Homo sapiens: one gene and its partner. The protein of the gene in region 2 interacts with the protein of the main gene of each other region in a pairwise test. Each region holds a gene or a part of one and is shown on either strand. Other genes may lie near its edges.

The links. The genes of interacting proteins can lie anywhere in the genome.
Region 1: the proteins of ABCA3 (region 2) and HTR2B interact in a two-hybrid assay, tested with the Homo sapiens proteins (one large-scale study listed by BioGRID and IntAct).

What each region holds. Positions count from the first base shown.
Region 1 is NC_000002.12:231,114,998-231,118,649, reverse strand, and holds part of HTR2B (5-hydroxytryptamine receptor 2B), read left to right. Parts: intron 1-3,652. UniProt on the Homo sapiens protein: G-protein coupled receptor for 5-hydroxytryptamine (serotonin). Also functions as a receptor for various ergot alkaloid derivatives and psychoactive substances.
Region 2 is NC_000016.10:2,285,201-2,288,852, forward strand, and holds part of ABCA3 (phospholipid-transporting ATPase ABCA3), read right to left. Parts: intron 3,130-3,652; coding exon 2,826-3,129; intron 1,768-2,825; coding exon 1,494-1,767; intron 447-1,493; coding exon 242-446; intron 1-241. UniProt on the Homo sapiens protein: Catalyzes the ATP-dependent transport of phospholipids such as phosphatidylcholine and phosphoglycerol from the cytoplasm into the lumen side of lamellar bodies, in turn participates in the lamellar bodies biogenesis and homeostasis of pulmonary surfactant.

The DNA of each region.
Region 1 (3,652 bases), on a different chromosome or scaffold from region 2:
CGGGGTTTCTAGTAAAACTCCTCAGGTTTTTGTACTAATTCAAAAGAAAGCAAAAACAAACAAAAAAATACCCAAACCAACAAAAAACCCAGGCATGCAATGCATACAGGTTATTTTCCTGTACCGTATATAAAATAAACAGCAGTTAAAATTCAACGTTAGTAAAAAACATACTTTTATGACAAATTCAATTGAAAGTTAAACAGAGTTAACTGTTCTCAGCCCATCCTCCCTCACCCCCGGAAAGTACAGCTTAAAGTTTTAAGCTGAATCAGATGCATGCACTTTTGCTACAGCAGGTAGAAAGACAAACACTCTTATTTCATACTGATGATTTGGCTTGTTTCTATGTAGGAGTGTTTTCATGGTTGAGTTAGTTGGCTAGTTTCTGTTAAACAATAGTAATAAGCACTAACATTTATTGAGTGTTTTCTTTATGCCAGGAACTGTTCTAAACACTTCACATGTATTTAATCATCATCCATATAAACTCTATTAAAGAAATCCTATAAAACAGGTACTATTATCCCCACTTTACAGAGGACAGAGAAGCAGAGGGATAAGTAATCTGTTCAAGATTACAAAGTAAGTGGCAGAGACATGATTTAAACCCAGGAGGACTGATTCTAGAATTCACACTCTTAACCTTTATTATTCCGCTTTCTCAAATGTCAATGAGAAATCTGACCAGCCAAAACTGTCATATTTGGCATACAGAACCAACATTTATACCTTAAATAACCCCATGTAACTGTTCAGAGGATCACAGAATTTTTTCCCCCCTAGGGACAAGTTAGAACTCAGTATTCTTTTCAGTTAAAGTTATATTTCATATTAAGTGGAAAAGAATACTTGTGCGTCAACCTATACTTGTACAAATCCTTCAGATGACTGCAAGATCTCTTTTCTGTGGAAGGTATTAGACCTAGGCCCATACCTATGAAGTTGTTGAACCTTGTCTGGGAGACAAATAAAAATTTATATAACTGAATGACAACTCCTACCATCCCTCATGCATGGCAGAATTTAAAGCAGTCTTCATTTTAAACAATAAAATATTTGTGCTACTGATATTCTTTAGATAATTAAACAATTGTCTATAAGACAAGACCCATCTAGGACTTGTTTTGTTGCTTTAATATTCAGTCTGTAATTATTTCAGGCATTGACAGAAATGCTATTATTCTTTCTTAATTTTAATGAAAGAGTCTAATTTAGAGCCCCAGAATAACAGTAATTTAGTTGAAGAACCTAGTAACTTGTTTCCCTCAGACTGACCCTTAGATACACATTTCTTTCTTTCCATTTAAGTATGTAACTGTTTCACTTCATTATTTCAAATTTTCAATGTCTTAAGTCTTTGTGGAAGTATATTGGACAGAATACATTATAACAAATAATGTAATTAGAAATTCTTAAAACCAAAACTCCTAAAATAAACGTTTTGAAATAAAGTATTTCACCATACCAACTTAACCTTTAATTTAGTTATTCTAAACAGAAATAAACTTTTCTGACTTTGAGCTAAATTAATACTAACTAAAAAATGATTTTAGAATGAAAGTCTCTAGACTAGGAAAAGCCCCTTTATAAAACAAGTGTGTCTAGAACTGTTTTTAATTTCTATAAATTCTTAGATTACCCAAATATATTAGGCATTTAAAAAAGCCTCTTTTTCTTTTTTGTGTTGTATATAAGGTTTCTATTAATTTAATGCAGTTATCTTTTTCTTTTATATTAGTTTCATTAAAACTATCCACCAGTGTTTCACGAAACTTGAAATGAGAAAGGCTTGGAATTGTAAAGATTCATCTCTCTTATAAATTTCAGTCTCATTCTTTCTTAAAGAAAATTCTGTATCACATCTCAATATTTCTGTTAACAATAAAGCACTAACTGTAATAAGAAAATTCTAGTGAATTTTAAGTGGGAATGAGTTTATAAATTCTGTTTAAAGTGAGGCTAACAGGGCTTCATAGGGTTACTTAAATCAGCACTAAAAAACTTTCCTTCTTAGCCCACAATTAGGAGTATGTGGATCAGATGGTCAAATTCCAAAGACACGTACTTTTTATATGAATTTTCTTATGGCTTCCTGCTTATGGCAACTAGATTTATGACTAGAATTTTCCAAACCTTAATCTTCAGAAGTATAATCCATAACTAGAATAGCTAAATAGACAGGTTTAAATAGTTGGCAAACTATTTTAAAAGATGTTACAGAGAGAGTAAGGACTTCAAGGAAGGAAATCTAAGATATAACACAATAATTACCTGCCTTTTAAATCCTTAACTGCAATCAATATCTCTGATTATAGCTCTAGACGAGTATTTTCCTACCACCCTACTTACAGTCCTAAATCTAGAACTTCAGCTCAAGATGTACCCTCATTTTTAGTAGTTTCCACTGCAAACTCTAAAATGATTCTTTTCACTATACTTAGACTGTTAGTTCGCTTTGAAGCTGCCTGTGTCCAAGGTCCTTTTCCACTAAATGACAAAAAATCTGAATGCTATGGCTAAGAGTGAGAAAATCCAATTGATTAGATTTTCTCCAAACACCAGTTTCTCTGACTTAATTTATTCTGAGAGGCCTCCCATTAGTTCCTTTCCATGAGACATTCCAAGTGCCTATAACCAACCCTACAACAGGAAACTTAGGTGCATCTTTTAAGACTCAGACACAAACCTTACCAGAAAGTCTTCCAAAGCACTGCTTCTCAAATGTTAATTTGCATACGAATCACCTGGAAACCTTATTTAACTGCAGAGTCTGATACAGTAGGTCTGAGATGAGACCCAAGAGCCTGCATATCTAAGTACCCAGGTGATGCCGATCCTCACTCTCCATCTTAAGAGCAAACTCTGAGTGGCAGTTCTAAATAACACTTTCAGATAACATTTACATTTCAATAAATAAATGCCTCCCCTCCTTACCTCTATATTCAGACTTAATTATACCTGAATTTACTCATCTGCAAGATCAATGGTAATCTCTAAGGTTCCTTCCAGCTCAATAAATCTAAAATTTACCACCTCTATCCCTTCCTACCCCCAATTCAACAAGCAGGCAAAGTTTATTTACAGTAATACACTGAAAAGTATGAATGACCCTTTCCACTTGATGCTTTAATCCCTTTTTAAGAAGCTGCTGAACATAGAACTAAGTCCCAATCATTTATTCTTTCTGAGTAAAAGTTTGTGCTGATTTTGTTATTTTGTTCCTAGGAAGAAATATTTTAATATTCTTATTCAGAATGCCACATACCAACTCTGGAAACAGAAGGCACCAAAAAGTAGATGTGTCAGCCTTGCTACCTTCTGGATACTTTGTCAAGTGCCCAGATATTTTTCACTGAAATCCTACCTGACTTTAAAAAAATCTCCTACTTGATGCTTGAAAATAACAGCCAAATCTATCTAAAAACTCTGCCCCTAAATTATGCTTTTTTTTTTTTTGGTCTGAGATTTTAATCTCTCTCCACCCCCAGGCTCCTTAAATTTTAAACAGTTAACAATAGAAGAGTCTCTTGTTGTTCTGTAATCCTGAGATGATTATTCTGGTTTTCCTTCAATTATGACAATCACTTTATACCTGTCAAAGTCAGATATACCTGCAATAGCCAGAAGAAAAGTAGATTACATTTTATCA
Region 2 (3,652 bases):
TTGCACCCGGAGCTGTAACCAGGATGGCTGCTCCGGGTGCTGCCCATGCATGGAGGGTAAAGGCTGAGGGTGCAGGGAGGAGGCGAGGGGGCAGCCGCCAGGGGATTCCAGCTGTCCTCCCTGAGTCGGGCCGAGCTGCCGGCCTAGGGGCTGCCCAGCTGGTTCCGGTTCTGCACAGGGGTCCCAGGGCAAGCCCTCTGCGGTCTGCAGGGGAACGGATCCAGCACCCTCCGGCGCTCACCAGCAGCAGCAGACTGGGGATGAGGAAGGAGATGAGGTCCCACAGCAGAGCAGAGAGCCAGAAACTGGCCACGTGGACTCCACTCACAAACTGCACATGCTTGGCCTGCACGGCCCTCTCGCTGACCGCCAGGATGGAGAACGTGCTGGCCAAGAATGCCATGGCGAAGAGCAGGTTGAGGGCAATGTCGAATCCCTTCCGGCCCCTGCGGGGGACAGAGAAGGTCAGGGACGGAGCACAGCACGTCTGGGTGGCAGGAGAGGTCGGGTTCTCGGTTATGACCGCCCAAGGCATGCAGGGCAGCAGCCCAACCACTAAAGGGGCTTATGGGAGAGCACAAGCACCATGGTTCCATACCGGGAACATCTGCCCCCACCGGAGAACGGTTCCTCTGGAATTCCTATGCTGACCATGTGACAATGGCAGCGTCACTCTCCCTCATCACCCCGCTCCCAGCCCTCAGCCCCACGGCTGCCGGCGACCTTGCCCAGGTGTGGAGGTCCCGAGCCCCACCTCCTCCTGGAGTGTGGCAAAGGGAAAGCCTCTCCTGGCCTCTGTGTGTCATTCTAGGATCCTGAGTTGATGGCAAGGAGAGCAGATCGAGGGCTGTTGCTTTTCTGCTCTTGGGGCAGGGATGGAGCCAGAAGCTGGGACGCAGCCATCGCCAGGCCTAGGCCTAGCCTGGAATGTGGGTGGAGACGACACTGCCCTGAGGAGGAGTGGCTATTCTGAAATTAACAGAATTTTTGGCCTCCTCTGGGTGGTTCCAGGAGCTCTGGGGGCTCTGTGGCCGGCATAGGGGGTAGCCCTGCCCACACAATGGCATGGCAGGCTCCCGACGTGCGGCCATCTGAGGAACAGGGACGGCAGTTCTTGCCAAGTCCTGCTCTGCTCACCCTCCATCACCTCAGCTCATGTGCCCAGCAGGTCACACTGCTGGAGAGAGCAGTGTGGAGCGAGGACAGTGGCTGACAGGAGCCAGGTAGATTTAGGAGGAGAAGGCAGGGCTGCCTGCCGAGCCTTCATGGGTCCCCGTGAGGACCGCAGTGCATGGGATGGCCCACAGCTGATCTGCTGTCACAGGGAGTTGGGGCTGTGGATGGTGGAGGAGGATGTGGCAGGGGTTTCCCACCAGACCCAGGGGCTTTGGGAGGGCAGACACAATGCTCTATCTATGGGCCCGTGGCAGTGCCCAGGGCAGTCAGTCCTGGGGGCTCTGGCCAGGGCAGACAGGGACGGGCAGTGCACATACTCGTTAAACTGGTCCTTGGCAGCCTGCAGGGCGCTCCGGGGCTGGGGGAAGTTGGAGACCACAATGGAGGCGTGAGGCCCGCACAGCAGCTTGAACAGAAGGTTGTCCACGACGGCCAGGGCAGTGGCTGGAGAGTGGTACGCCTGGTTGTTGAACAAGGCGTTGACGACCGTGCGCTCTCCCACATCTCTGAAGGACGCTGCCACAAGGCACCGCTCATTAAAGCCGCCCCCCTCCACAGAAGCCCTGAAGATCAAGAACTCCTCCAGGTCACCTGGGGAGCAATGGCAGAGTCAGGGGACACAGGAAGAGGTGACACCTGGGCACCCCCTGCCACCTGAGCATGGCTAATCAGGGACCCAATAGAGTGGTGCCAGCATCCTCTGAGCTGCCCGCCCCATCACCCTTCTCCTAAGGAGAGTATAATTTCTGGCAAGGTTTTGTCATCATTCAGTATGTGGAACTTTGAATGCCAGTCAGGAACCGGGAAAGGAGCTGCAAAATAAGAAAACCTTCCAGTAGGTTCCATTAACCAGAGCACGGTCCCTGTTCTGAGCCTGGGGCAGTATCCAACTATGACTACCAAGACTCTTTCTTTTTTTTTTTGAGACAGTCTTGCTCTGTCACCCAGGCTGGAGTGCAATGGTGCGATCTTGGCTCACTGCAGCCTCCACCGCCCAGGTTCAAGCCATTCTCCTGCCTCAGCCTCCAGAGTAGCTGGGATTACAGGTACCCATCACCACACCTAGCTAATTTTTGTGTTTAGTAGAGACAGAGTTTTGCCATGTTGACCAGGCTGGTCTCGAACTCCTGACCTCAAGTGATCCACCTGCCTCGGCCTCCCAAAGTAGTGGGATGACAGGTGTGAGCTACTGTGCCTGGCCAAGAACTGTGAGTTTTAAGATGTTGAAAGAAAACACCCTGTCACACGAAGGCACACTGTGGCCAGCATCATCACAAAGCAAAGGTAACTTGAAGTCACTATGCTTCTGCATTTTGCCCATGAATGATCCTGAAAGACACAGCTTCAGTAAAAAGACGCCTGACAAAGCCTGGCCCCAGGATGCCAGTGTCTCTGGCACCTCCAGGGCACTTCCCCTGACTCAGTGCCGTGATCTGCCACCCAGGGGACATCCGCAATGTTTCCAGGCATGTTTGATGGTCATGATGGGGTGGGGCAAGGTCAGGGATGCTGCTGAACCTCCCTCAGTACATTCGGAACAGCCAAGAACCATCCTCCCCAGATGTCGACCCTGCTGCAGTCAGGAAGGCGAACTCTGGCTGCAGGACTGGCCCCCGATGCCCCCGTCCCGCCCCCGGGATGCCCCTTACCGAGCACCTCGCGGGGCTCCTGTCCCTCAGCCTGCAGTGCGTCTTTCAGATGCTCTGACAGCTGCTGACCCAGCTGGGAGGTCCCGGGAACTGAGAAGGGCACGACGGTTCTGCCGTACTCGCCCAAGGTCAGCCTCAGCATGGGGTCGTCGAAGAGCTCCGAGGAGTAGTTGATGGCCAGGAGGGCCAGGGTGACGCAGGTCAGAGGCACCAGGACCTGTGCCGCCACCATTTTCCACTCGCGCCAGCTGTATGCGGCCTTCTTCAGGAACATGGCCCAGAATTGCTGGCAGTGCAGGGCGAGCTGCGGCAGAGGGGACGCAGGTGACACCGGCACCGCTTGGGGCCCAGCGCCTGACCCCCACCCACCTGCGGCAGGTGCTGTTCTGTGTGACGCCAGCCTGGGGGCCTGCAGCTGAGGTTGCACCGGAGACTCCCAGAGCGTTGAAACGGCCGTGGGAGGAGCTCAGTGCACCACATGGCAGGGTCACCTGTGCAGACTCTGCAGGTCTCCATGGGGCCCTGCACGTTGGCACTATTTTATTTTTTTGAGACAGGGTCACTCTGTCACTGGGGGTGGAGTGCAGTGGTGTGATCTCAGCTCACTGCAACCTCCACCTCCTGGGTTCCTACCTCAGCCTCCCAAGTAGCTGGGATTACAGGCGCACACCACCACACCCAACTAATTTTTGTATTTTTAGTAGAGATAGGGTTTTGTCATGTTGGCCTAGGCTGGTCTTGAACTCCTGACCTCAAGTGATCTGCCCGCCTTGGCCTCCCAATGTACTGGGATTACAGGCATGAGCCACCACACCCGGCCCAGACAC